Homo sapiens: one gene and its partners. The protein of the gene in region 1 interacts with the protein of each later gene in a pairwise test. Each region holds a gene or a part of one and is shown on either strand. Other genes may lie near its edges. The genes, in order: FNBP1, TNKS, AKAP9 and DNM1.

Region 1 (7,035 bases):
GCTGAGGGGCGGGGTTGCAAGTGCTCTCCAGTCGCAGGGACTCAATCTGAGTCCTCCCTGGGGTCAGTCGCTTTAGTTGCTTTGTGTTTTCCTTTCTTGAGCAGCCCAGATGGCAGTTACACAGAGGAGCAGAGTCAGGAGAGTGAGATGAAGGTGCTGGCCACGGATTTTGACGACGAGTTTGATGATGAGGAGCCCCTCCCTGCCATAGGGACGTGCAAAGCTCTCTACACATTTGAAGGTGACATTTCATGTCTGCTGGATTCCCCTGCCTTTTATAAACCATAATATCTGAGTTACTCTTCTTTCACTTTTCCTTCCTTCCTTCCTTCTGATCATTTTTATTCCTTTGTCCTTCCTTCCTTCCTTCCTACCTTCCCTTCCCCTTCCCCTTCCCCTTCCCCTTCCTTCCTTCCCTTCCCTTCCCTCCCTTCCCTTCCTTCCCTTCCTTCCCTTCCTTCCTTCCTTCCTTTTTTTCATACAGGGTCTCGCTCTCTTGCCCAAGTTAGAGTGCAGTGGTGCAATCATGGCTCACTGCAGCCTTGACCTCCTGGGCTCAAGTGATCCTCCAACCTCAGCCTCCTGAGTAGCTGGGACTACAGGCAAGCACCACCATGTCCGGCTCATTTTTGTACTTTTGTACTTTTTGTACTTTTCAGTAGAGACAGGGTCTCACTATGTTGCCCAGGCTGGTGTTGAACTCCTGGATTCAAGCAGTACTCCTGCCTCAGCCTCCCAAAGTGCTGTGATCACAGGTGTGAGCCACTGTGCCTAGCCACACTCTTCTCTTTCTGTGACCAGAACTTTCTTTAGAAGCCTTCCAGATCTGGCCGGGCATGGTGGCTCACACCTGTAATCCTAGAACTTTGGGAGGCTGAGGCGGGCAGGTCACTTGAGGCCAGGAGTTCAAGACCAGCCTCGCCAACATGGTGAAATCCCATCTCTACTAAAAATACAAAAACTGGCTGGGCATGCTGGCAGGCGCCTGTAATCCCAGCTGCTCGGGAGGCTGAGGCACGAGAATCACTTGAACCCGGGAGGCGGAGGTTGCAGTGAGCTGAGATAGCGCCACTGTACTCCAGCCTGGGTGACAGAACGAGACTCTGTCTCAAAAAAAAAAAAAAAGCTGCAGCAGCAGCCTTCCAGATCCTTCTCTACTATGCTTTTATCCTACTCATGGTATGATTATTATTTGGTTGTATATTTTGACTTTTGGTTCGTATAACTTAACAGCTTCCAGAGAGCTTGCTTCACTGCAGCAGACGATAGGGAGGATGATCATTTCATCCATTCATTTAATATCTAGTATCTATAGCGCTCCTGTCTTGTAAAGGCCCATGAAGTGGGGGGATGCAGGTCGTATGATATGGCACCTGCCCAGAGGGAAATCAGGCAGACACACTTAAGGAGCAAGCAGCGGCTGGGTGCAGTGGCTCACGCCTGTAATCCCAGCACTTTGGGAGGCCGAGGCAGGCGGATCGTGAGGTCAGGAGATCGAGACCATCCTGGCCAACATGGTGAAACCCCATCTCTACTAAAAATACAAAAATCAGCTAAGCGTGGTAGCGCATGCCTGTAATTCCAGCTACTTGGGAGGCTGAAGCAGGAGACTCACTTAAACCAGGAGTCGGAGGTGGCAGTGAGCCGAGGTCGTGCCACTTTACTCCAGCCTGGCAACAGAGCAAGACTCCCTCTCAAAAAAAAAAAGCAGGCAGTTTGCAGTGTTTGCCAGAAGAGGGATACAGAGGAACGGGGAGGACAGGGGAGAATGAGGTCGCTTCCTTAAGGAAGTTTGGAGAACTTGCCATGGCATGGGGGGTGTGGCCAGAAATGGGTGTGGTGTGGCTGGAGCTTAGATGTCTTAAGTCCTAATAGTGAAATGTGGCACTAAAGAGTGGGAAGTGCCAATGGGGGCGAGGTAGGGAAACATCTGGGTTTTATGTGGCAAACATTGAGGAGCTATGGGAGGTCCCCTAGCAGGGTGTCGATGCAGTCAGAGCTGTACCTTAGGAAAGTCATCGTCAGATGTGTAGGATCCACTGGAAGACATGGAGGATGGTTAGAAAGACTAGCCCAGGCCGGGCATGGTGGCTCACGCCTGTAATCCTAGAACTTTGGGAGGCTGAGGCAGGCAGATCACCTGAGGTCAGGAGTTCTAGACCAGCCTGCCCAACATGATGAAACCCCGTCTCTACTAAAAATACAAAAATCAGTGAGGCGTGGTGGCGGGCGCCTGTAATCCCAGCTACTCGGGAGGCTGAAGCATGAGAATTGCTTGAACCCAGGAGGCAGAGGTTGCAGTGAGCCAAGATCGTGCCATTGTACTCCAGTATGGGCAACAGAGGGCAACTCTGTCTCAAAAAAAAGAAAGAAAAGATAAACTAGCTTAGTGTTTCTAAACCAATGAACCTTGAAACGATGTCCTGCAGAGCGTTAATAAGGAGGCCATGAAAGAAGCTCTCAGGCCAGGCTCAGTGGCTCACACCTGTAATCCCAGCACTTTGGGAGGCTGAGGCCAAGAGTTCAGGGCTACAGTGAGCTATGATCGTACCACTGCACTCCAGCCTAGGCGATAGTGTGAAACCCTCTCTAAAAAATAAATAAATAAATAAATAAAATTACGAAAAAGTTGCATTTTAATATAATGAATAAATTTTTAAAACTAGCAATCAGAGCTCAAGTAAGTTTGGGAAGCCCTGGGATAAATAAATTTTACAGATTTCTTTACTACAGGACTTTTCAGAGCCTTTAATAGACTAAATGTTCATTGTGACAAAATAAGAAAGACGTACCAGTTTAAACGTTCCCAGTTTTACTTCATATTCCAACCATCCCCCACCGTACCCTGTTGCCCTGTTAACAGCTCCCTAAACTCTTTGCCTTGCAGAAAACTGGGGGGTGGTGGGCAGCCTTTGAAATGATCCTAGCAGAAGGTCTTGGGGGCCTTGTTCAAGGAATGGATACAGAGATGCCGCCATTGACAAACTGCATATATTCGGGGCTGATCAAAAGCCAGGAACAAAAAGGAGAGGAAATCCAAGACGGCTCCCAGAGTTGCATTCCTGGGAGGACAGAGAGGTCTAGGGAAGTGGAAAAGCAGGAGGATATAGTTAGGAGGAAGAACAGTGAATCCAGGTTCATCTATGTTGTTTCAGGTGTTGGGGCCATGTCTAGGTGGCAGTGTGCTGCAGACAGTGGGAAAAGTGGAATCTTGGCTGCAGAAAGTACCAGAATGGAAGCAATATGTGAGGACAGTGTTTAAAGAGGAGCAGTTGGGCCGGGCGTGGTGGCTCACGCCTGTAATCCCAGCGCTTTGGGAGGCCGAGGCGGGTGGATCACCTGAGGTCAGGAGTTCAAGACCAGCCTGACCAACATGGTGAAACCTCGTCTCTACTAAAAATACAAAATTAGCCGGGCGTGGTGGCACATGCCTGTAATCTCAGCTACTCGGGAGGCCGAGGCAGGAGAATCACTTGAACCCGGGACAAGTGGCATCACACTCCAGCCTGGGCAACAGAGCAAGACTCTGTCTCAAAACAAACAAACAACAACAACAAAAAAATTGGGAGGCTGAGGCTGGTGGATCACCTAAGGTCAGGAGTCAGACCAGCCTGACCAACATGGTGAAACCCCATCTCTACTAAAAATAGAAAGGTTAGCCGGGTGTGGTGGTGCACACCTATAGTCTCAGCTGCTCGGGAGGCTGAGACAGGAGAATCGCTTGAACCGGGGAGGTGGAGGTTGCAGTGAGTTGAGATTGCACCACAGCACTCTGGCCTGGGCAACAAGAGCAAGACTCCATCCCCCACAACCCCCCCAAAAAATAACAGACAAAAGAGAAGCAGTTGGAGCCACGAGGGTACCTTTCTCCTGAGAGAGATCCAAGTGAGACAGAAGAAGACTAGAGAAGAGAACCAAAGATTTATCCAGTGAGAAATACTTACCATTCTGGGAGGGAGGAGAAAGAGGGCCCTGGAGGACTTAGAGAGGGTCCCTAGAGAGACAGAGGTAAGAACCTGGACATTTCTGTGCAGAAGGAGATGGTTTTGAGGCAGTGGGTGAGGGGTCCGTGCATCTGAGAAGGTCCGAGTGGGGTGAATTTTGTGTGGACTTCATCTTCGACGACACTTGTTTCATTGCGAAGGCCACTGTTTGCTTCCTCCCTGCATTTGCCAAGACATCTAACATATCCTGATATTGCTTTTTCAGGTCAGAATGAAGGAACGATTTCCGTAGTTGAAGGAGAAACATTGTATGTCATAGAGGAAGACAAAGGCGATGGCTGGACCCGCATTCGGAGAAATGAAGATGAAGAGGGTTATGTCCCCACTTCATATGTCGAAGTCTGTTTGGACAAAAATGCCAAAGGTGCTAAGACTTATATTTAATACCATAAAAAAAAAAAACTTAAAAAAAATGGAGTTGTTTCTCCCCACAACCATGACTGTTACAGGCAGTTCCTCAAGAGACTGGCTGGCAAGCACCATAATGCACGTTCTCCTGTAGTCTCACGTGGACTTCAGGGTCTGGGCACCTGAATTGCCTTGTCTAGTTTGGGCTGTAATCAAGTTTCACTTGCTGATGAAATTTTATGTGGAAAGCTGCCAACCGCCAACTTACAGCTATGTCATTCAAAATCTGATAAACATTTCTTCTTTTGGCGGTATCTGTAGATTAAAAAAAAAGTTGCATTGTAGCTTCTCATCTTTCTGAATTTAAAAGCCGGCACGCATCATGCAGGTGCCAAAGACTTCCCTACTCTTGTTTATATCTAGTATCCACCATACACTGAGCTACATTAGGTGGTTACAGATTGTAACTTAATAAACTGAACTGTGTTAGTTTGTTAAATTGTATACTCATTCACTTGGGAGGAAGTCACAAGTGAAATAACATCTCCTTCTTGACTAAAGCAGTAAATAAGATTCTTATATTGGCACCAAAAGTGTGTGTTTTTACTTAAACCTGGTCAGCATCCTTGGTAGGGCATCACGAGTACCCTGTTCCATCTACATGATCCCAGACAACCAGCTGAAATCTGGAAAAGTTTGGTGAATTGACCACTTGATTTTTACATTGCATTGCTGATTTTCCAAGTGTCATCAAATTGACAGGTTTTTGTTGTTGTGTTTGTGTTTTTGTTGTTGTTGTTGTTTTGAGACAGAGTCTGGCTCTGTTGCCCAGGCTGGAGTACAGTGGCTCACTGCAACCTCCGCCTCCCCCAGGTTCAAGCGATTCTCCTGCCTCAGCCTCCCGAGTAGCTGGGATTACAGGTGTGCACCACCACGCCTGGCTAATTTTTGTATTTTTAGTAGAGACGGGTTCGCTCTGTTGGCCAGGCTGGTCTCAAACTCCTGACCTCAAGTGATCTGCCTGCTTCTGCCTCCCAAAGTGCTGGGATTATAGGCGTGAGCCACCGCACCTGGCCCAAATTGACAGTTGATCAGATGTGCTAGTGCTGTTTAGATGGAGTTACTTAAAAGGCAGAGCGTGTCCCTGCATCAGCTCCTTTTGGCTGTGATTTCCTCTCACACTTGGTTCGGTTTCTGTTGGTTTTCCAAGTAGAGCTGCACTCACGCTTGCCCAGGTGGGGCTATAAAGAGAACGTGGTGTGGCAGCAAATGCTTCTCCCCACAGACACAGATCTCAGCACATTGCTGTTCAAAGACTTTGGGGGTTTGCTTTTGTTTTTTTGTTGTTGTTGTTTTTGTTTTGTTTTGTTTCTGCTTTTAATCATTGGCAAGGTTTGGATTTACTGGAAATTATTTTAGAATTTCTGGCTCATTTTATACAATTAACTGTAGCCAGAATGAAGTAAAATGTCTCACCACATCGAAAGGAATCTAGGCCACATGAGAATTTGCATTTTTAAATTGGCATTGATGTGGGAGGGGAGATAGTGAAGTTGGTCACATGCGTAGATGGTTGCCAGGCATTTCACTGTGCCCATTTCCAGAATCCACCCCGAGATCATAGACAACCCACTACAAATGGGTCAGAATGAAGGTGTTGGGTCAGATTCTCTTTTTATTTGATTTTGAAAATTATTTCCTTGTGTCCTTCCTACTTTCAAGTAGGAAATTAGCCCCTGCCTGCCTCTACATTGTGGGTTCATTTGATCAGCTCAAGTCCATTTAAAGCTGATTTTCCAAGCAGTAGCTGCACATTCGGGCTCTAGAACCTAGTAGGGGTTCTGGATGCTAGGGGCCGTGTTTCAAGATTCTCACAGCCAGTTAACCTTTATTTAGTGACAGCCTGATTTTTTAAAAAACTTTTTTTTTTTTTTTTTTTGAGATGGAGTCTCGCTCTGTCGCCAGGATGGAGTGCGGTGGCACAATCTTGGCTCACTGCAACCTCTGCCTCCTGAGTTCAAGCGATTCTCCTGCTTCAGCCTCCCAAGTAGCTGGGACTACAGGCGTGTGCCACCATGCCCAGCTAATTTTTTGTATTTTTAGTAGAGACAGGGTTTCACCGTGTTAGCCAGAATGGTCTTGATCTCCTGACCTCATGATCTGTCCACCTCAGCCTCCCAAAGTGTTGGGATTACAGGCATGAGCCCGTGCCTGGCTTTTTTTTTTTTTTTTTTTTTTTTTGAGACAGAGTCTCACTCTGTCACCTAGACTCAAGGGCAATGATACAATCCTGGCTCACTACAACCTCTGCCTCCCGAGTTCAAGTAATTCTTGTGCCTCAGCCTCCCCAGTAGCTGGGATTACAGGTGCCTGCCACCACACCCGGCTAATCTTTGTATTTTTTTTTTTTTTTAGTAAAGACAGGTTTTCACCATGTTGGCCAGGCTTGTCTCAAACTCTTGGGCTCAAGTGATCCGCCCGCCTCAGCCTCCCAAAGTGCTGGGATTACAGGGTGAGCCACCGTGCCAGGCCCAAATTTCTTTTGGATACTTTTGCTGGCATAGTATCAATAAAGCCACCCATCCCGACCCCAGGCCTCTTTGTAGATATTGCAGCAAGAAAATCAGCTGACCCTTCAACCACAAGGATCTGTTTAAATGAGCAGTAGGAAGTTTCCAGCTTT
Region 2 (6,970 bases), on another chromosome or scaffold:
AAGTTACTGTACAGATAAAATTCTAGGTTCAAATTTGCTATGTAACGGACCCCTAGGCATGGAGAAAGAAGAGGGGAAGAATGGAAGGATTTTCTTAGTCCTCTGCGCCAGGCACTGTGCTAAGTATTTAATACTGACTGTTGCATGAAGCAGGCGTTCTTCCCCTCCGTCTCCCCCGAGAGGTGGAGAAGGTGAGTCTGTGAGCAATCATGTTGTGCAAGGCCCCTGGGCTGCCTTTGGACCTGGTAGGAGGTCTGGCTCTAAAGTGTCAGCCTGTTTGTTTAAGAGATATTTCTGAAAGGAACCCATGTTGCCCGTGCTATTGCAGAAGTTATTCAGTAACTGCCATGTGGGCTGAGACGTGAGGATAAGTCACTTAAAACCCAGGTCTCACTGGAAGATGGAGAGGGAGGGTTGGTATTTGTATTCTGACAGTTTTTCAAGTCAGTTGTGTTAAGGTTGGTCAGGCAGAAATGAACAAGCAGGGCAAAATGAAAATACTTAAGAGCTAACTGCTATCCACACAAGTGTACTTTAAAAATGGTTTTATTGAATATTAATCATTTACAAGTACAGTGAGCTAGACATTAAGCCAAAGCACAATTGCAGGTTAAATATAATCACAAAGATGTCTTAAATAGAAACCCACCAGGCAGGCAGGTTAAGTTCCTTGATGCCCTCCTTTGGAAAGAAGTGGAGGGTGAGGGAAAAAGGACTTCCATTTCAGGTGACGAGATGATGACTAGAGGACTTTAACATGCTGTAGGTGATTTCCCATGACCACAGCTGTAGGATTGCCAGATTTAGAAAAACCAAACAATGAGAAAAACCAGCATGCTCAGTTAAATTTGAATTTCAGACAAATAATGAATGCTTTTACTGTAAATATATGCCAAATATTGCATGAAACATTCTTAACGTGAAATTGTTTCTCTGAAATTCAAACTTAACTGGGCATCTTGTACTTGATCTGACAATCCTACAAATAGATAAATACAAAAAAGAAAGGAGAGGGGGTTGTAACCCCTGCCACTGTTGGGTCACACAGAGACTAAAAATAAAAACAACACGAATAATGAACCAAAGAGTCACTACACTGGTTGCTCACACAGACCAACATCACAATGAGAAAACACAATTACTACTCCGAGTGCTGTTGCCAGGCAACATAACATTTTCTCAAAGCTGGTTTTGTAAATGTTTTGAGAAACCTTGATAAAAGTACCTTTTTAGTTTGTAGGTATCAAAGACAAACATTACTACTACAAAGATAAGATGAGCTTGAAACAATGGGAGCAGAAGCAGGTGTTATATGCACATGAAGAGTTTCAGTGTTTTGTGTCACGGAGACAATGTTTACATACTCAAGGTCATCTTCTAGGTCTAGGCTATCGGCCTCAAAGATCTGTGTTCTTTCCTAACTTTGAATGGGTTTTCTAGCCTTTCATCCTGAACTTTGGGAGGGGTGCGCGGGTGTGTGAGGGACACCCCACTACCAGGGTTCAACTGCATTTCTCTGCAAACACTCTGAATCAACACAAGGGCTTTCAGGGCTGCCTGCAGAAATGGGTAGACTGATGTAAAAGAAATCACAGAACAATCTGAATTCTGGAACGTGAAAGAAACCTCTTTGAAAGGATGGGAGGTAGGGCAGGTGCGAAGACGTGAAGTGTAAAGCAAAAAAGAATGTGAAAGGAGGAAAAGCCGAAATGCAATCTACAGTGCGAATGTTATTTCAGAGGAGGCAGAACTCTCTGGCAATGTATAAAACTCGTCATACTACGACCATATTTGGTCGTGCAAAGTATATAAAATCATTAGCTTCCTCTAGGTTTTCACTTTAGCATAACCATAATTTACATTTTAAAACAATTAAAAAACACAGCTTGCATATCACTCATATTCTACAAGGTATCACAGTTGCTGTCGTATCCCCACATACACAACTGAATAGGCTTTGAAATCTTTCCAGCACTTCTCCAAACCAGAAATCTGGTAGCTGAGGAAGTTCCAATATGGAGAAATTGAAATGGATTAATTTTAATCAGCTCCATTGCATGTAAGGGAATATTACTTATGAAATATACCATCATAAAATAAGATGAACAGGTCTGAAACACATGGAGACATGGCCGACTCACTGACACACCTTTCAAACACTAAGAAATGGGACTACAATGTTTTATTTATTAAAATATAAAAGGTTAAAAAGTTTCCGCCATAGTTAAGGCTTTCTAGAGGGGAAAAATTTAATTTATTAATGGCAGAGTGCACAAGTTGCTGAAGAAGCCTCATGTTCTAGAATAGTAGTTTTCGAGTGCATTTGCTTTCCATATGCTAGATGTGTACAATAGCTCAAACATCACTTTCACAATTACTTTCTTTTCACTTCTGTCACTGATCTGACATTAAACAAATTTGACTTTACTCTTTAAATACGTATCTGACATGAAATCCTATCTTAATGGCAGTTTTGAATACCTGCCAAATTAGTAAGGTCTATAGCTTTACGTGAGACAATTAGTCCAACAGAAAACACAAGAAGAAGGCTATTTGTCACAGATATCACACAAGAGGGATTCGGATACAATGGGGGAAAGGTGCTTGAAAATACACACCACTTCTGTTTGCAAGGCCATTTACAGGAATCCAGATAGTGCACATGTTAAAAAGGCGGGGGTGGGGACAATGCCCAATAACCCTTCGTGCCATTGGGAGAGACACTGAAACAGAAAAACCTAGACAACTTATTGCATTCTAATGCCGTTCTCCGGCATATATCAAAATTTTATTTTTTGTAAAACGGATACAATAATAGAATGTTAATCTACATTATTTGCTTGCCATATTCAGGCATTTCTCTGTATACTTCAATGCACTTTGTATTTTGAGAGCAAAGGGAAATCAGTCTAGCCACTAACATCAAGCTCAAAGAAGTATAAGGATGCTATTTCATGAAAACATCCTAATGTTGATTCTACTTATGCTGCTTGAAAAGCTAGAAATTCCAAACTCCAAGAAGGAAAAGGAAAACAAGAATCCTGGTTGCACTGCTGTTATTTTGCATCGAATCAAAACTCTGGGTTCCATGCTGTCATTTGTTAACAAAGCGGCAGTGTTCTGAGCAAAGCGCATGAGGCCTAATACCCATTCCTGGTTGTGATACAAAAGCTAGGAGGTATCTGGTCTCCTTTTTTAAGACCCAAGATGAGGAGAAAATGAATGGAGTCAAAGGTCATTGCTGGAGCTAATTTTAATTCCAGACTAGTAATTTAGGAAAGAGGGAAGGAGGTCAAATACAGGGAGAAAGTTCGGGACCAGGGCACTTAATTTATGCCTGAGTCAAGTATCCAGCAGGCCAACAGCAGGTAAACTGGAACCATCAGGTCTGGAGAAGCCCTTTAGTTTTGGAACTCGGGTAGAGCCGGTGGAGACGTTCAGATTCTTTCTTCCATGTGGTTAGGGAAACAGAGGGGCCATTTCGGGGTAGGCCATATTGGATGATCCTAACTTGCTAGTATTTCTATATAGTACATATACAAAAAATAAAAGACTTCAGCCTAATTTAATGCCATGCTTTTATATTGGAAAGGGTTCTTCATACGGCTACAGATGAAAATCCCAAATGTAATAAACTTGTCCTAACTTTTGAGTGCACTCATGATGACCTTTGGTTTTCAAGTTCTGAAAAAAATGTATTTGGCTCCTCTGATATATCCATTAACCCACTCTCTTAAGCAGATGAGTAATATATGCACACTCTTTCAAGAACTACTATATACTTGAATCATTATAGGACAAGAAGCACCGCAAATGTCTTCCTTACACAGTACCTTCACCTGGCACACAGAGCATGAGACGTATAACACTGGCAGTTTAAATACTGAACCACAGTTTAACTTCTCAAGTGTAAGGACCAAGATGAAAACTGGCGCATCCATTCATCTAGTTAGTATGATGGAAACAACATACAACCACAGTTAGGTAGTGGTTTATCTTTTTAATGAAGCCATAAAGCTTTCCATATCTATATCATATTAACTCTTTTACTTAACTAAAAATCACAGCTGTGTTTACCATTTTAAACTACGTCTGGGGGAAGGTAAGTAAGACACACTTGACAGCTACTGAAAACTACACAGATGGCAATTTCTTCAACCCTTTGTTACAGCAAAAGAGAAGGAAAGAAGGGGAAAAAAAGCCCTCTTAATGAATATCAACTCTCAAAGCTTCACCTGGAATTCTAGTGCTATTAAACAAGTAGCCAAGACACAAACACCCAGCTTGGGTCACTGAAACTTCAAAAGAAGCAACAACTGAGGCTAATTCTCGATTTAATTTTGAGGACCCATAAAAATTCAGCTACAAACATTCAAACTAGTCTGGATGCCTAGTTCCAGCACTGGGTTGAAGCCAAAATCAAAGCAAAATGTATATATTTTAAGAGTCTATTTCTAGAAGTTTTGCATGTAACCATTTTATTTTGCTTCAGGAGATTAAAGGAGGTCACAGCTTAATCACCTTGCATTAAACCCATCGTTTTCAGGGCTTTGAATTGCAATGGCAAGTTTGTGTCACACTGTCTTTCCTATTCCTCCTCGTGTTTATATTTCTTTCGCTTCAAAGCAGAGTAGATGCACAGTATATCAAGTAAATAAGTTAGTGCACTCAATTCATATTCAGTTAAGGTGAAAAGGGCAAGTGTAAGAACTATAAAGGATCATTTTTTTTTATAAATGTCAATGGCACTTGGTAAATGTTGATGAAAATAAACAGTAATTTCACAAAGAAAATTGTATGGTATTTCTTTCTCACCTTCATTGAAAAAATAACAGAAAGGGCTTTGGTTTCAATTTTTGTTCTCCTTGTCTAAACACACTAAGAAGTTTGAAGAAATGGTTCAGAAATTTAATGCAAGGATCTTTATGAACTATTTGAAGCATGCCACTCAAAATAAACCCCAAATCTGGAGTAAACAAAAAAGTCCTTGCATTTGTGTGTATCTATCCACTATTCGAGTCTGAATCCCAGCATTCTCAACTAAAGAAACAATCAAGTGGTATTTTTGTGACCCTCATCAAGTGCAGTAATTTCACTGACTTTTGAAATAAGGCAGCTAATTTGGAGGGGTAACAATCCCAACAGTACAGATTAAGGGAAGGGAAGCATGTATTTTTTGGAGGCATCCCCTGGATCCATTGGGGCTGCCATGATACAGAACCACACGCTCCTCACCCTCCTTAATGCAGCTCTTCCTTCACAGCCTCCCCAGTTTTTTCACCTTGGAACTCAAGCCCGTGTCAACCTGCATCTCCAGTACTGTCCCGAAGACCTCTGTGGCAGGCTTGTGTTGGAAAGAGCAAGTGGCCTTCACCGGCTTTGACTTCTCTGAATTTAGGCGTTCCTAAGTCAGGTTGGTGTTTGTGCCCTTCTCTTGTAAGATAGGCCAATTCATAAAAAGGTACTAAAACTTGATGTTTTTTCCTTTTCATCTCAATTTATGATAACGAGAAGTGCAGCTACAGAGCAAAATAAAAAAATTTTAAAAAGTGGAAACTGAATCTTGCTCAGCCAGAAGCTTGGGTTGCACTGCTAATGATTTTGTCAGCGTGACTTTGTGCAAAATATCCTCAAGAAGGCTCTGGCTCATTTTCAAAGTAACCCAAAAAACACAAAAAAACAAAAAACAAACAAACAATAGCCAATGATGCATGTCTGGCAAATCAAAAACAAGCTTGTTGCCTGTCGTATGTGTATATTTGTTATAGACACGTCATGCATAACAAAACAAATGTAGTGTGTGAATTGTGAACATTTGAAAAAGCATTGGTTTTCTTATTTTCCATTTCCAAGTCTAGATCGAAGCAATCTTGTTTTAGAAATGGATAATTGCAATGAAAATGAGCCTGAGATATGTTAAAAGGCCGCCCCTGTAAACATTTCCTCAAAGGGAACAGTAGCAGTTGAGTATGTATCAGTTACTCATACTATTCATCACTATAGCAATGCTTTATAGAAGACAAACAGCTTATTTCTAGGCTGTCAGGGACTTCTAGAATATTGATGTTGTTATTAGAAACAATCCTCTGTAATCCAGTCCCAGGTTGAAATCTGATCTGGCCTTCACCAGCAGGCATTCACTAGGTCTTCTGCTCTGCGGCTGTTGCGGTCTGGGAAGGGGCTTCTGGCTTCATGATCTGGTAAGTGATAAGATACTCTGGGTATGCCTGGGAAGGACAAGAAGAAAAACAAATCACCCTTCTAGTAGGCACAATATTAAAGCCTTGCCGAATGTGGAAGCCTCAAAGGCTGTTAATCGTGACCAATATTCTATATAGACTCAGTTTCTTAATAGGTGCCTGAACAATTTGAGGTTCACCTACTTAACTGTAAATAAATGTGTATAAACCCTACAATCTAGAAAACTGAATGTTATTTCTACTTCGAATACTGTCAATTAAGCTCCATTCATCCCTTATTAGAGAGCCATGTGTCATAAGCAGGGAAACTAAGGCCCGAGGTAGCACTAATATCTTTTTCACCTCACAGAGCATTGGTGCTGTCACACAGCGTGTGTTCAATAAAAGTTTGCTAAATGAAAGAAAAATTTTGCTGAATCCAGTCCAAATTAATCATAGAAGATGATGTAACCCACTGAGCTAGAAGGAGTAAGGGTGAGATGTACTGAGTCACCAATAACCCAGAAACAACAGTTTGGGAACAATATTTAAAAACTGACTACTCAAAGGCATCATTTACAGGAGAGATAAGGGCTCCGATTTAGACTGGCCTCCTTCATATTCTCTTTCTCTTTTTTCTTGCAGTCAGTAAAACACAAGGCTGTGTCTGGAATGGGAAGAGTTCTTCTTGGTGGGAGCAGGAAAAAGGAGGCTGATCAGAGGAAGCTGCTGAAAACCTAACCAGAAATTGCAGTGAAGGCAGCAATTTGGAAGGAGAGGTAGGACACCCC
Region 3 (7,035 bases), on another chromosome or scaffold:
ATGTTCATTCATTCATTCATTCATTCATTCAAGGCACCTTTAAGTCCTGTTTGCCTGGGACTCCTGTCTCTTTAAAATGATTTTACTTACCTACTTATGTCCTGATCCATTCTGTAGATTTCATGTATTTATTTGTTTTTGAGACTATAGCCCTCTATTACTTACAGAGGCAAGTAAGTTACTGAAGCAAAACTTTGACCTAGGGCCTCTGCTTGACTTTGTCATGCTGAAGTAATCACCATAACAGATATGCCTTGGCCTGTGTCTGGGCGTAGCCCTATCTCCATTCCAAAATAGAATCCCAAATAAGAACTGGGGGAGAGTATCTGCTTTGCTTTGAAAATTCTGTTTAAACCAAAAGTCCTAGGACCAAGTTGTTATGCCATAAATGGTATAGTTGTCTTAGATGTCACTTGAGGTTCAGCCTTTTAAGCATTGCATATCTCTAAATTTCTGACTGACTTAAGAGCCCAGGACTGAAGTTAAGACAGACCGTTAGGAGTCTGTTTTTGTTGTTTTTCTTTTTCCATAGCCCTTGCCCATGACACACATTGAAGTCACCAGAATACATGTGAGGAACTTTTATTTATTTTTATCTTTCTGAATGTGTCTAGAGTATATGCAGTACTTTAGCTATAGAGAATACTAAATATTTAGAATGTTGATCAGTTAATAAGAAAAATGAAAATGTAACAGTTTGGAGACATCTAAAATCAGACTGGGTTTTTAAACTAAAAATTTTAATCACAGAAATGTTAAGAGAAATTTCTTCTAAGAAGGCCAAAACTACTGTAGTGTTTGCTCACAAGTAGTGTTGGTTACACGAGTTCTAAGTGTCATTATTGTGGAAAAAATTGAGGGGCAGGACCAACATTTACTTTTTGTAGAATTTTTTAAAAGAGAAACTTCTGTCAGTCTTTTGGTAATGAGATGAAGCAGTATAATTTGCCAGAAGCTAAAAATGCCATTCTTACATTTTCATTTTTTTTCCTAAAGGAACAAGATAAAAAAGTAGAAAACTCAAATAAAGAAGAAATACAGGAAAAGGAGACAATCATTGAAGAATTAAACACAAAAATAATAGAAGAAGAAAAGAAAACTCTTGAGCTAAAGGATAAATTAACAACTGCTGATAAATTACTAGGAGAATTACAAGAACAGATTGTGCAAAAGAACCAAGAAATAAAAAACATGAAATTAGAGCTGACTAATTCTAAGCAAAAAGAAAGACAGTCTTCTGAAGAAATAAAACAGTTAATGGGGACAGTCGAAGAACTTCAGAAGAGAAATCATAAAGACAGCCAGTTCGAAACTGATATAGTACAACGAATGGAACAAGAAACACAAAGAAAGTTAGAACAACTCCGGGCAGAGCTGGATGAGATGTATGGGCAGCAGATAGTGCAAATGAAACAAGAATTAATAAGACAACACATGGCACAGATGGAGGAAATGAAAACACGGCATAAGGGAGAAATGGAGAATGCTTTAAGGTCATATTCAAATATTACAGTTAATGAAGATCAGATAAAGTTAATGAATGTGGCAATAAATGAACTGAATATAAAATTGCAAGATACTAACTCTCAAAAGGAAAAACTCAAGGAAGAACTAGGACTAATTTTAGAAGAAAAGTGTGCTCTACAGAGACAGCTTGAAGACCTTGTTGAAGAATTGAGCTTTTCAAGGGAACAGATTCAGAGAGCTAGACAGACAATAGCTGAACAAGAAAGTAAACTTAATGAAGCACATAAGTCCCTTAGTACAGTGGAAGATTTGAAAGCTGAGATTGTTTCTGCATCTGAATCCAGAAAGGAACTAGAATTAAAACATGAAGCAGAAGTTACAAATTACAAGATAAAACTTGAAATGTTAGAAAAAGAAAAGAATGCTGTGTTAGACAGAATGGCTGAATCACAAGAAGCTGAATTAGAGAGGCTGAGAACACAGCTTCTATTTAGTCACGAAGAAGAGCTTTCCAAACTGAAGGAAGATTTAGAAATTGAACATCGAATAAATATTGAAAAACTTAAAGATAATTTAGGCATTCACTATAAACAGCAGATAGATGGTTTACAGAATGAAATGAGTCAAAAGATAGAAACCATGCAGTTTGAAAAGGACAATTTGATAACTAAGCAGAATCAATTAATTTTGGAAATTTCAAAGCTAAAAGATTTACAGCAGTCTCTTGTAAATTCAAAGTCAGAAGAAATGACTCTTCAAATCAATGAACTTCAAAAAGAAATTGAAATACTCAGACAAGAAGAAAAAGAAAAGGGTACACTTGAACAAGAAGTTCAAGAATTACAACTTAAAACAGAATTGTTAGAAAAACAGATGAAGGAAAAAGAGAATGATCTTCAAGAAAAATTTGCACAACTTGAAGCAGAGAATAGCATTCTTAAAGATGAAAAGAAAACCCTTGAAGACATGTTGAAAATACATACTCCTGTTAGCCAAGAAGAAAGATTGATTTTCTTAGACTCCATTAAGTCCAAATCCAAAGACTCTGTGTGGGAAAAAGAAATAGAAATACTTATAGAGGAAAATGAGGACCTCAAACAACAATGTATTCAGCTAAATGAAGAGATTGAAAAGCAAAGGAACACTTTTTCATTTGCTGAAAAAAACTTTGAAGTTAACTATCAAGAGTTACAAGAGGAGTATGCTTGCCTTCTCAAAGTAAAAGATGATTTAGAAGACAGTAAAAATAAACAGGAATTAGAGTATAAAAGTAAACTTAAAGCACTTAATGAAGAGCTTCATTTGCAAAGAATAAATCCAACTACAGTGAAAATGAAAAGTTCTGTCTTTGATGAAGACAAAACTTTTGTAGCAGAAACATTGGAAATGGGTGAGGTTGTTGAAAAGGATACAACAGAACTCATGGAAAAACTTGAGGTAACCAAGCGAGAGAAATTAGAGCTGTCACAGAGACTGTCTGATCTTTCTGAACAATTGAAACAGAAACATGGTGAGATTAGTTTTCTAAATGAAGAAGTTAAATCTTTAAAGCAAGAGAAAGAACAAGTTTCATTGAGATGTAGAGAGCTAGAAATCATTATTAACCACAACAGGGCAGAAAATGTACAGTCATGTGATACTCAAGTAAGCTCTTTATTAGATGGAGTTGTGACCATGACAAGCAGGGGTGCTGAAGGATCAGTTTCTAAAGTAAATAAAAGTTTTGGTGAAGAATCAAAAATAATGGTGGAAGATAAAGTTTCTTTTGAAAATATGACTGTTGGAGAAGAAAGTAAGCAAGAACAGTTGATTTTGGATCACTTACCATCTGTAACAAAGGAATCATCACTTAGAGCAACTCAACCAAGTGAAAATGATAAACTTCAGAAAGAACTCAATGTACTTAAATCAGAACAGGTATGTTTACTTCTTCATATATGGTAAAGCACAATGAAAAAAATGTACATTTCACACTAAGGTTTCACCTTCATAGAACATAAGTTCATATCCTTACAAGAGAATGAAAATGAACCCTCTGATGTAATTTTAACTTGAGCCTATCATTTATTTATCATTTAAGTACTTTTTTTTTTAAACCATTGTTGCCTTTCTTTCAGTTAATCTATCTTGTATATTCTGCTCAGGAAATAAAACACTAATGGATTCAGATTTTCTTTGGAAAGACAAGAGTTTGTATAACTTTATGGAGAATCTCAGCATTAGAAAAGTTATTAATTTCATTTTGTAATTTTTGTTATAATCTCAAAGATTGGTTTCAGCGTTTTTATTTCATAGTGATGTTTTCAAGTCTCTACAACTGAAAATGAACTCCTAAGCTTTTTAATAGTCTCTATAGTTGTTAGGTGGTTATGAAATTATATTTTCCTGGGAGAAAAAAAAACCTTTGATTTAAGTCCTAGAGTTTTTTCAGAGTCTTTATTATACCTGAAGGGGAAAAAACAGTATTAACTCTAAATATAGTTAAAGAATTATATGTATATAATAATAGATCACTCCTGATAATTTATATTTGCCAGATACTGATATTAAAATAACAGGAAAATTCTGCTATCTACAATGTAATGGTGCTAACTAAAGTTTTATGTGTTTCTTCATTTTTCTAACATATTTATTGACTCTCTTGGCAAGTACGAATATAGTGGCCAACAAGAGAGAGGTTTCTGGTCTCAAAGAGCATATATTTTAGTGAGGGAGGCAGATGATAAATGAAACAAGTAGGATAGTGAGAAATAGTGATAAATTCTCTGAAGAAATAAAACAGGATAATGTGATAGGGAATGATGGAATTATTTCTGAGGGCTCTGTTCTGTTCCATTGGTCTATATCTCTGTTTTGGTACCAGTACCATGCTGTTTTGGTTACTGTAGCCTTGTAGTATAGTTTGAAGTCAGGTAGCGTGATGCCTCCAGCTTTGTTCTCTTGGCTTAGGATTGACTTGGCAATGTGGGCTCTTTTTTGGTTCCTTATGAACTTTAAAGTAGTTTTTTCCAATTCTGTGAAGAAAGTCATTTCTGTGAAGAAAGTCATTCCTGATGGGAATGGCATTGAATCTATAAATTACCTTGGGCAGTATGGCCATTTTCACAATATTGATTCTTCCTATCCATGAGCATGGAATGTTCTTCCATTTGTTTGTATCCTCTTTTATTTCGTTGAGCAGTCGTTTGTAGTTCTCCTTGAAGAGGCCCTTCATATCCCTTGTAAGTTGGATTCCTAGGTATTTTATTCTCATTGAAGCAATTGTGAATGGGAGTTCACTCATGATTTGGCTCTCTGTTCGTCTGTTGTTGGTGTATAAGAATGCTTGTGATTTTTGCACATTGATTTTGTATCCTGAGACTTTGCTGAAGTTGCTTATCAGCTTAAGGAGATTTTGGGCTGAGACGATGGGGTTTTCTAGATATACAATCACGTCATCTGCAAACAGGGACAATTTGACTTCCTCTTTTCCTAATTGAATACCCTTTATTTCTTTCTCCTGCCTGATTTCCCTGGCCAGAACTTCCAACACTATGTTGAATAGGAGTGGTGAGAGAGGGCATCCCTGTCTTGTGCCAGTTTTCAAAGGGAATGCTTCCGGTTTTTGTCCATTCAGTATGATATTGGCTGTGGGTTTGTCATAAATAGCTCTTACTATTTTGAGATATGCCCCATCAGTACCTAATTTATTGAGAGTTTTTAGCATGAAGTGCTGTTGAATTTTGTCCAAGGCCTTTTCTGCATCTATTGAGATAATCATGTGGTTTTTGTCTTTGGTTCTGTTTATATGCTGGATTACACTTACTGATTTGCGTATGTTGAACCAGCCTTGCATCCCAGGGATGAAGCCCACTTGATCATGGTGGATGAGCTTTCTGATGTGCTGCTGCATTTGGTTTGCCAGTATTTTATTGAGGATTTTTGCATCGATGTTCATCAGGATATTGGGAATGTTGGAGAGGGTAGTAACAACATTAAATATGGTGGTCAGGAAACATCTCTAGGAGGAATTGACATTTGAGCTGAAATCTGAATGACATTGAAATTAGAGCAATTGTAAAGACACGGGTAAGTTTAAAGAACAGAATGAAGGCTTGTGTAGTTGAGTTTGAGAGAGCGGGAGAGTGGAAGAAGAGTTTGAAGGAGGAAGAGACCAGACCTTGGAGAATCTTGCAGACTTTGGAAGCCATTGGAAAGTTTTCTCTTTTTATTCCTAAATATATCATATTTATGATCTTATATCAAATGTCGAGATATTTTATATTTATGATTTATATCAAATGTAGAGATATTTTATATATTTACTTGCCTAAATAGAGTCAAGAAATTCGAATTGCTTAACGATTTTTTTGTTTGTTTGTTTTTGAGACCGAGTCTCACTCTGTCACCCGGGCTGGAGTGCAGTGGCGTGATCTCAGCTCACTACAACCTCCGCCTCCCGGGTTCAATCAATTCTCCTGCCTCAGCCTCCTGAGTAGCTGGGATTACAGGCATGCACCACCACCACGCCTGGGTAATTTTTGTATTTTTAGTAGAGACAAGGTTTCACCATGTTGGCCAGTTTGGTCTCAAACTCCTGACCTTAGGTGATCCAACAGCCTCGGCCTCCCAAAGTGCTGGGATTACAGGCGTGAGCCACCATGCCTGGCCAAATTGCTTAACTGTTAATGTTCTGTTAAATGTCTGGAATTGTTTTCAAAACCAAAATGTATGGCAGTTACTTGTGAAAATGTCACACATCTTTTAAAATTTTTTAGGAAGCATTTTTGGGAGAAGACCTGAATTTGACCCTCAGATGGTCAAATTTTCTTATTAGGAATTCTAATTTTCTTTTTCTTTTTCTTTTTTTTTTGAGACAGGCTCTCACTGCCGTCCAGGCTAGAGTCTCATGGCGCAATCACAGCATCCTGCAGCCTTGACCTCCTGGACTCAGGTGATCCTCTCACCTCAGCCTCCTGAGTAGCTAGTATTACAGGCATGCACCACACACCCAGCTAGGTTTTTGTATTTTTTGTAGAGACAGGGATTTGCCATGTTGCCCAGGCTGGTCTCAAACTTCTGGGCTTAAATGATCTTCTTGCCTTGGCCTCCTGAAATGCTGGGATTACAGGCATGAGTCTTTGTCACCAGCCAGAATTCTATTTTCTGTACTAAAGAGATACTAAAAAGATACTTTTGATGGCATTCAGATTCCCTCTATTTGACATTGACTACATAAAGTAAAGCCTGTAAACTTCCTGCCCGTTCATCATTACCAAGACAAACCTTTATTGATGGGAAGGGAAGTTCACAGAAGAAATCGAGCAGTGACTTACACAATAGTAACACCTAAGAGCAGCCTAAATATGCTTGAAATAATGTGGATGCCACACAGATATCTCTAATACACTTAGGTAGTTTGGGCAGAAGGAGAAAAATAAAAACATCATAGAAGTCTTTTCAGTGTTGGGATGCAAGGAAGAAGGAAGAGTGGCAGGAATTTTTTAGATACTGATTAATTATTGATGCTGGGAGAGGTCATAGATTGAAGTGTATGTGTTTAAAATTGAAGATGATTATTAGAATCAA
Region 4 (7,000 bases), 1.7 Mb from region 1:
GTCATTTTCTGAATCTTTTAAAATGGAGAACACATGATTTTAAAAATTAGAGGCAAAAGAGATCTATTTCCCTTTTGAAAATACAAAGTCATCAACCCTTGGATTGATGGAAGGGAGGGAGGGAGGGTGGGAAAGAAAGTAGGAAGGATGAGAAGATAAGAAATAAGGGAAGGTAATAGGCTCTGCTTAATAGGGAGAAAGATTGCTGTGGAGAGAGCACCTACCCGGACTCAGGAGCCCTACCTTGTCACCAACTTGCACCATGATCTTGGGCAAGACTCTTCCCTTTTGTGCCTCAGTTTCTACCCTATACAATGAAGCCGATGGTAGAGCTCATCTTCCATTCCCTCTTTTGGTCAGTGCGGGTGTCCTGAGAGTCTGCTACATGCCAGACCCAGGGCTAGGTGCTGGGATATTGTGACAAACAAGTCTAGCCTAGTCCCTGCTCCCGGGGCCATCAGAACATCAAGGAAAGCCAAGGCCAGAACTGCCCTGCAGTGTTCAGACCTCAGCTTGAAATTCATGAGCTGTGACGGGGCTGCCTAGGGTCCCCTGGGGCAGCAGGAACAGAGAGCGACTTGTTGCCTGGGGGTAGCCTCACCTCCTCCCAACTGTATTTCTTGGCCTACCCACTCCCTTGCAGGCACCCCAACTCCCTGCTTCAGAGCACGCCCCTGCCCACCCCCCTTGCCTTCCACCTCCAGGGTCAAGATCTGGCTGGAAATATCCTGCCCTCACCCCCAAGCTCACTGCCATCCTCCAGGAAACCCACCGTCCAACTCTCTCCCCGCTGCCTCTTCTGGTGACGAGGCTGTGGGAGTCCAGCCTGTGGTCTCAGCATGCCCAGCAAGCTATCGTTATTTATAATCATAGTAGCCACGATTGGTTCAGCCATCAGTCTGTATAAGCCTCACAGCAACCCATTTTACTGATGTGGAAACTGAGGCTCAGAGAGGTATGGTCATTTGTGCACAGCCACACAGCTCCTACATGACAGCTCAGACATTCAATGTGGGGTCCATCTGACATCAGAGCCCAAAAAAGAGGAGGCATAGAAGAATGACCGGCACTGGGTGCACGCCCAGTTAAGCACGTTACTTCCTGGGGTCATTTGCATTCAGCAGGGCCTGGGAACCAGGATCCCAGAGCTCTGATCCCAAGTCTCAGGTCCTAGAGTAGGGGTAGGGGTAGGGGTCACATCAGCCCTTGGGTTCAGTTTCTCCAGACCCCTCTCACGGTGACAACTCCAGTTCAGACAGGGAGTGTGGCATTTGGGGTTCCTGAGAGGTGTTTGTTTCGTCCCCTCATGTTTCACGTTTGAAGGTGCCTCTGCAGATGGCCAGGCACAGCCTCCCTGGGAACCCACCATCTGCTCCAAATGAGTGGGGAGAACTGGCATGCCAGCAGCCGCCCCTCCCACGCTGGGCACAGCACGCGGCCTCCGAGGCTGGTGGGCCTGATACTTTTCTCTGGGCACCTGTTCTGTCCTCCCTTAGCCTAACCAGGAGCTGGAGGCTGGATCTAGTCTGGATCCCCACTGGGGAGAAGGAGGGCCACCTAGGGGACCCTTAAACAGAGGGCTAAAGTGGGACAGTGTGTCCAGGTGAAAGGGAAGAGCTAGGGAGCTGCTGAGTCATGCACATTCCTTCTCGTGTTGCCTGCACGCCTACTACGTGCGGGGCCTGTGCCAGGCAGGAACCCGGAAGTGAGTGAGGAGCTCATTGTCCGGACCTGGGGACCTGCTGGTCCTCCCCACTGTCAGTCCAGACGTGAGACTGGGAAGCAGACCTCTCGGGTCCTGGCACCAGGCACCAGGCCAAGGAAAGGCCAATGTAGGATTCGATGAAGGAGCCAGCCTGGCACTGGCTCCTCAGCATGGGGCAGATGGTCCTTAAACTTAACACGGAGTGTGGAAACCACCTGAGGATCCATTTAAAACCCAGATTCTGCCTCCCCATGAAGCCCTCTTGAGATTCTAGCCCAGCATGCCTGAGGAGCATGCGTCTGGACAAACTACCCAAGGCATTCTGATGCAGGCCGCGTGAGGGCCTCACTTTGAGAACCTGGGCCATGACAGAGATGGGCCACCTCCCCATCTGGGCACCAGGAGATCTTGGCTCTGGGAGGGGTTGACCCCCAGACATGGCCCTGCCTCTAGTCTCTGCTTCCCAGAAGCTACTTGCCCTTTAAGTAGCCCTGGGGAGGCAGCAGGCAGCTGGCCCAGACCCTGACCACCCAGCATTCTTGCCAGCTGGGCCCTGGGCTCCCCACACCCGCTATGTGGCACCTTGGAGACCTCCACCCCTCAGGCTCACCAGGGCTGCGTGGGCCTGTCTGCTCAAGGAGAGGCCTCTCAGGGAAGAACTCCAGGGAAAGTCCACGTCTCTGTGTGGGGGACTCTTTGTGGGGAGTCCCATCCTTTCCAGCCCCTCCTGCAGTTTCCATGGCAACTACTGTTGCCATGGTGTTGCTGGTGAGGAGCTGGTGGAGAAGAGGGTGGACCCCCGGCCCCCACACCCACCCCAGCTTCTATGAGAACAGCTGTTCTATCTCCACAGCCCTGGGGGACTCCCAAAACTGGAAGTCACGCCCCCAAAGGAGTCTTTGAGTAAAGGATGGGAGAGATTGAGACCGGAAGTCCTCCCACCCCCCAGCAAACCCCCTCCCTCTGTGCCGCCTGGCACACCTCTGTTCTAGCACATACCACGCTGCATTGCATTATCTGTTTACTTGTCTGTCTCTCCCACCACACTGTGAGTTCCTCAGGGTGGGAACTGTCTGACTCATCATCTCCCATCCCCAGAGCCCGGCACAGGGCCCGGCACAGACTGAATTTAATTGAATTACATAAAAAGCCAAGTCTGGCTTCTTGGGTTTGAGACAGCACCATTGAATGAGGAAGTTTCCAGGCTGAGGGTCCAACAGACACTCAGCTTTGAATCCCCACTCTGCTGTGTGACCTTGGGTGAGTCACTTCACCTCTCTGAGCCTCAGCTGCTTCCTCTGTAAAATGATAATCTCTATATCAGAGCACAGATTCGAGGACTTGGAGATTCAATCAGAATTTATTGAGTGCCCCTTGTGTGCTAAGCCCTGTCCTGGGCACTGGGATACAGTGGCAGACAGAAAGAGGCTGCCCTGCTCACTGTCTGGCAAGAATGAAAAGCATTTGCCTGGTGCGCAGAAATGATGAATATACACAGGGCTTACCATCCTTCTCCTTCTCCAGTATAATTCCTGACTCCTCCCCAGCAGCGTCCACTTCCCCAGACGTGAGGCAGTGGAGAGGCTTCAAGAGGGGGCTTTGAACCTAGGAGCTCTGGGTCTAGTCTGTTGTACCTAAGACCCTTAGCTCCTGACCCTGGGGTGCAAGAAGACTTGTGAGTCTGGGTCAGGCTCTGGGCTGGGAGCAAGAGACCTGGGTTCCACCTCTGGCTCTGTAGAGCTTGAATGTATCTTTTTCCCTCCCTGGGCCTCTCCATGAATAAGGCGCTGGCTGTGTCTCAATGGTCCCTCGGGCTTCAACCTGTTCCCCCCTTTCCTGGGCCCTGGAGATCCCATGACTGGCAATTCTGACATCCTGATTCCTGGAGAGGCCTTCACCCTTGTGCTTGCGCCAGCTGGAGGGTGGTGCAGAGGGAGGTGGATGAAAAGAGCTGACTGGACAGAGAACCGGCACCCACAAGAGTCAGCCAAAAGGACAGCTGAGGTTGACATTGGCACGAGCAGATGTCTAAGCTATAGACTGTCAGGTCTGGGGACGGGGGATGACTTTGGGACCTCTCAGTCCAGTCCTTCAAAGGCGGCTCGGTTCACAGGGGGCTGAAGGGCAGGGGAGTGTCACTGCAGAGTCAAATATATCCGAGACCAGGGTCTGCTCTGCCAGATACTGGCTGTGCAACCTGAATGTCTCTAAGGTGCAGCTCCCTCATCTGCAAAATGGGGGTAATAACAGCACCTGCCTCATGGGGCTACAGTATGGAGCCCCACTAAGCGCCTGGCATGCAGTAGGCACTAAGAAGCATGAGTTTTTTTGTTTCTTTGTGGGTTTTTTTGAGGTGGAGTTTTGCTCTTGTCGCCTAGGCTGGAGTGCAATGGCGCGATCTTGGCTCACCGTAACCTCCGCCTCCCGGGTTCAAACAATTCTCCTGCCTCAGCCTCCCAAATAGCTGAGATTACAGGTGCCTGACACCCCGCCGGCTAATTTTTTTGTATTTTTAGTAGAGACAGGGTTTCACCATGTTGGCCAGGCTGGTCTCAAACTCCTGACCTCAGGTGATCCGCCCGCCTCAGCCTCCAAAGTGCTGGGATTACAGGCGTGAGCCACCGCGCCCGGCCCATGAGTCCTTTTCCTTGCCACCTCCTTCCCCACTCTTCTTCAACCCTAGCCATATGGAGCCTGGAGAAGGGGAAGTGAGATGCTGCCCTGCCCCACAGCGGAAGGGAGGGGAGAAGTTACAGCTCTGTTTCCTGGGATCCACTCTGTGGGCATTGGACACATAGGCATGTGGGAGACCCCATGCCTCAGTTTTCTGGGGCTGAATGGCCGTGGCTGAGTTGGGGCAGGGACTTCCTATTGGTTCAAAACCAACACAGGACGTATCTAGGAGTTGATCCAGTCTCTTGGCAGCTCAGATGCATAAATTCTGTGACCCAGGCGACTTGAGGAAAAGTATTTTCCACCTTTCTGGGCTGCCATATGCTCTTAGTTACCTGAAGCCCCTGGGCTAAGGAGCGGTGGAGCCAGCACTTTGGAAGGAGCTTTGGCTTTCCCAGGGGCCGGACAGGTACCCCTGGGACAGAGGGCGCCCCCTCATATCTTGACCCTCCTTTGACCTCCAACTCATTGCAGGGACTTCTTGCCTCGAGGATCTGGCATTGTCACCCGACGTCCCCTGGTCTTGCAGCTGGTCAATGCAACCACAGGTACGTGCCCTCCTTCACCAGCAGCCAGGCCTGCCCACTCCAGCCTCTCCCCCGTCCCCAAGCTGAGGGCCAGCCTGGCCACGAACTTGCTTGCTGTGTGACTGTGGGCCTCGTTCCCCTTAGGGATAGCGGGGATCAAAATACATAATGGAGACGTGGGTGGTGGTTCTGCTTGGGTGTGTCTAGGGGGTTCTATTACCGGTGGGAGATGAAAACCCCCAGGTGGGGTTCCAGACCTTGATGCCTACTGCCCTTCCCCTGCCCGCTTCTGGAGCAGAATATGCCGAGTTCCTGCACTGCAAGGGAAAGAAATTCACCGACTTCGAGGAGGTGCGCCTTGAGATCGAGGCCGAGACCGACAGGGTCACCGGCACCAACAAGGGCATCTCGCCGGTGCCTATCAACCTCCGCGTCTACTCGCCGCACGGTGAGGACCCTGGCCCCGCCCTAACCTCTAAGAATCATTTTCTTGGCCACGCACCTCTGCGTGCCTCGCTCCTCCTGCAGACTCCGCCCCTAGAATGACCCTGCCTCTGCATCATCCTATTCCAAGCTCCACCCTGCCGTGATTCCGCCCACTTCCGGCCACGCCTCCAACAGACTGCCACTTTCGCCCTGAGATTTCCTAGTCCCACCCACCTGCCACCCTGCTCCCAAGCAGCTTCTCTAACCCCGCCCTATTCTTTAACCTCGCCCGCGGCCACGCCCCTCGCCTTGAGCCCGCCCTCTCGCCGCCCTGTCCAGTGCTGAACCTGACCCTGGTGGACCTGCCCGGAATGACCAAGGTCCCGGTGGGGGACCAACCTCCCGACATCGAGTTCCAGATCCGAGACATGCTTATGCAGTTTGTCACCAAGGAGAACTGCCTCATCCTGGCCGTGTCCCCCGCCAACTCTGACCTGGCCAATTCTGACGCCCTCAAGGTCGCCAAGGAGGTGGACCCCCAGGGTAGGTTCCCACCCGGTGGCCAATGCACAAAACCCCAGGCTTGCAGGCTGTCTATTCTTAGTGTAAAGGGGAGCCTCTGAACGGTCTAAGAATAGCGGTGGGATCAGATTTGTACCTTTAAAAATCACTTTGGGGGTCAGGCATGGTAGCTCATGCCTGTAATCCCAGCACTTTGGGAGGCCAAGCCGGGAGGATTGCTTGAGCCCAGGAGTTCGAGACAAGGCTGGGCAACCTAGTGAGACCCCATTTCTACAAAAAATTTAAAAATTAGCCGGGCACCGTGGTGCACGCTTGTGGTCCCAGCTACTCGTGAGGCTGAGGCCAGAGAATCACTTGAGCCCAGGAGGTTGAGGCTGCAGTGAGCCCTACTCGCACCACTGCAGTCCAGCATGGGCAAGAGTGAGACCCTGTCTCAAAAAAGAAAAAAAGGCTGGGTGCAGTGGCTCATGCCTGTAATCCCAGCACTTTGGGAGGCCAACTTGGGAGGATCGCTTGAAGCCAGGAGTTGGAAACCAGCCTGGCAACAAAGCGAGATCCCATCTCTAACAAATAAAAAAACAAGAAGAATAAATAAAAATCATTTTGGCTACTCTGTGGAAAATGAATAAGGGGGAAAGAGAGGAGGCAGTGAGCAGGCAGGGGGCCGAGGAGAGCAGGGGGATGGGAGTGGGAGTGCATGGAATTGTGTGTGAGAGCGGGTGCAGCTGTAGACGGCCCTCCTGCTGGTGCACCCAGGCCAGCGCACCATCGGGGTCATCACCAAGCTGGACCTGATGGACGAGGGCACAGATGCCCGTGATGTGCTGGAGAACAAGCTGCTCCCCCTGCGCAGAGGTAAGCAGGCCATGCCCCTCAACCACTCCCCAGCCCTTCCCCACCCTTCCCCTCCTCTTGAGGCTGGTTGCCCTGACCTTGATACTGTTCACAGGCTACATTGGAGTGGTGAACCGGAGCCAGAAGGACATTGATGGCAAGAAGGACATTACCGCCGCCTTGGCTGCTGAACGAAAGTTCTTCCTCTCCCATCCATCTTATCGCCACTTGGCTGACCGTATGGGCACGCCCTACCTGCAGAAGGTCCTCAATCAGGTAGGCGACCAAGCCAGGATGGGGCCTGGGGAAACAA

Evidence for each region.
Region 2: the proteins of FNBP1 (region 1) and TNKS interact in binary tests that used the Homo sapiens proteins (3 or more experiments, as listed by UniProt).
Region 3: the proteins of FNBP1 (region 1) and AKAP9 interact in a two-hybrid assay, tested with the Homo sapiens proteins (one study listed by BioGRID).
Region 4: the proteins of FNBP1 (region 1) and DNM1 interact in binary tests that used the Homo sapiens proteins (3 or more experiments, as listed by UniProt).

Annotation. Positions count from the first base shown.
Region 1 is NC_000009.12:129,893,171-129,900,205, reverse strand, and holds part of FNBP1 (formin-binding protein 1), read left to right. Parts: intron 1-101; coding exon of another isoform or gene 102-104; coding exon 105-241; intron 242-4,209; coding exon 4,210-4,368; coding exon of another isoform or gene 4,369-4,388; exon of another isoform or gene 4,389-4,945; intron 4,946-7,035. UniProt on the Homo sapiens protein: May act as a link between RND2 signaling and regulation of the actin cytoskeleton. Required to coordinate membrane tubulation with reorganization of the actin cytoskeleton during the late stage of clathrin-mediated endocytosis.
Region 2 is NC_000008.11:9,775,907-9,782,876, reverse strand, and holds the end of TNKS (poly [ADP-ribose] polymerase tankyrase-1), read right to left. Parts: intron 6,228-6,970; coding exon 6,141-6,227; 3' UTR 531-6,140; downstream 1-530.
Region 3 is NC_000007.14:91,999,852-92,006,886, forward strand, and holds part of AKAP9 (A-kinase anchor protein 9), read left to right. Parts: intron 1-996; coding exon 997-3,384; intron 3,385-7,035. UniProt on the Homo sapiens protein: Scaffolding protein that assembles several protein kinases and phosphatases on the centrosome and Golgi apparatus. Required to maintain the integrity of the Golgi apparatus. Required for microtubule nucleation at the cis-side of the Golgi apparatus.
Region 4 is NC_000009.12:128,213,379-128,220,378, forward strand, and holds part of DNM1 (dynamin-1), read left to right. Parts: intron 1-4,852; coding exon 4,853-4,926; intron 4,927-5,203; coding exon 5,204-5,353; intron 5,354-5,670; coding exon 5,671-5,874; intron 5,875-6,609; coding exon 6,610-6,708; intron 6,709-6,802; coding exon 6,803-6,963; intron 6,964-7,000. UniProt on the Homo sapiens protein: Catalyzes the hydrolysis of GTP and utilizes this energy to mediate vesicle scission and participates in many forms of endocytosis, such as clathrin-mediated endocytosis or synaptic vesicle endocytosis as well as rapid endocytosis (RE).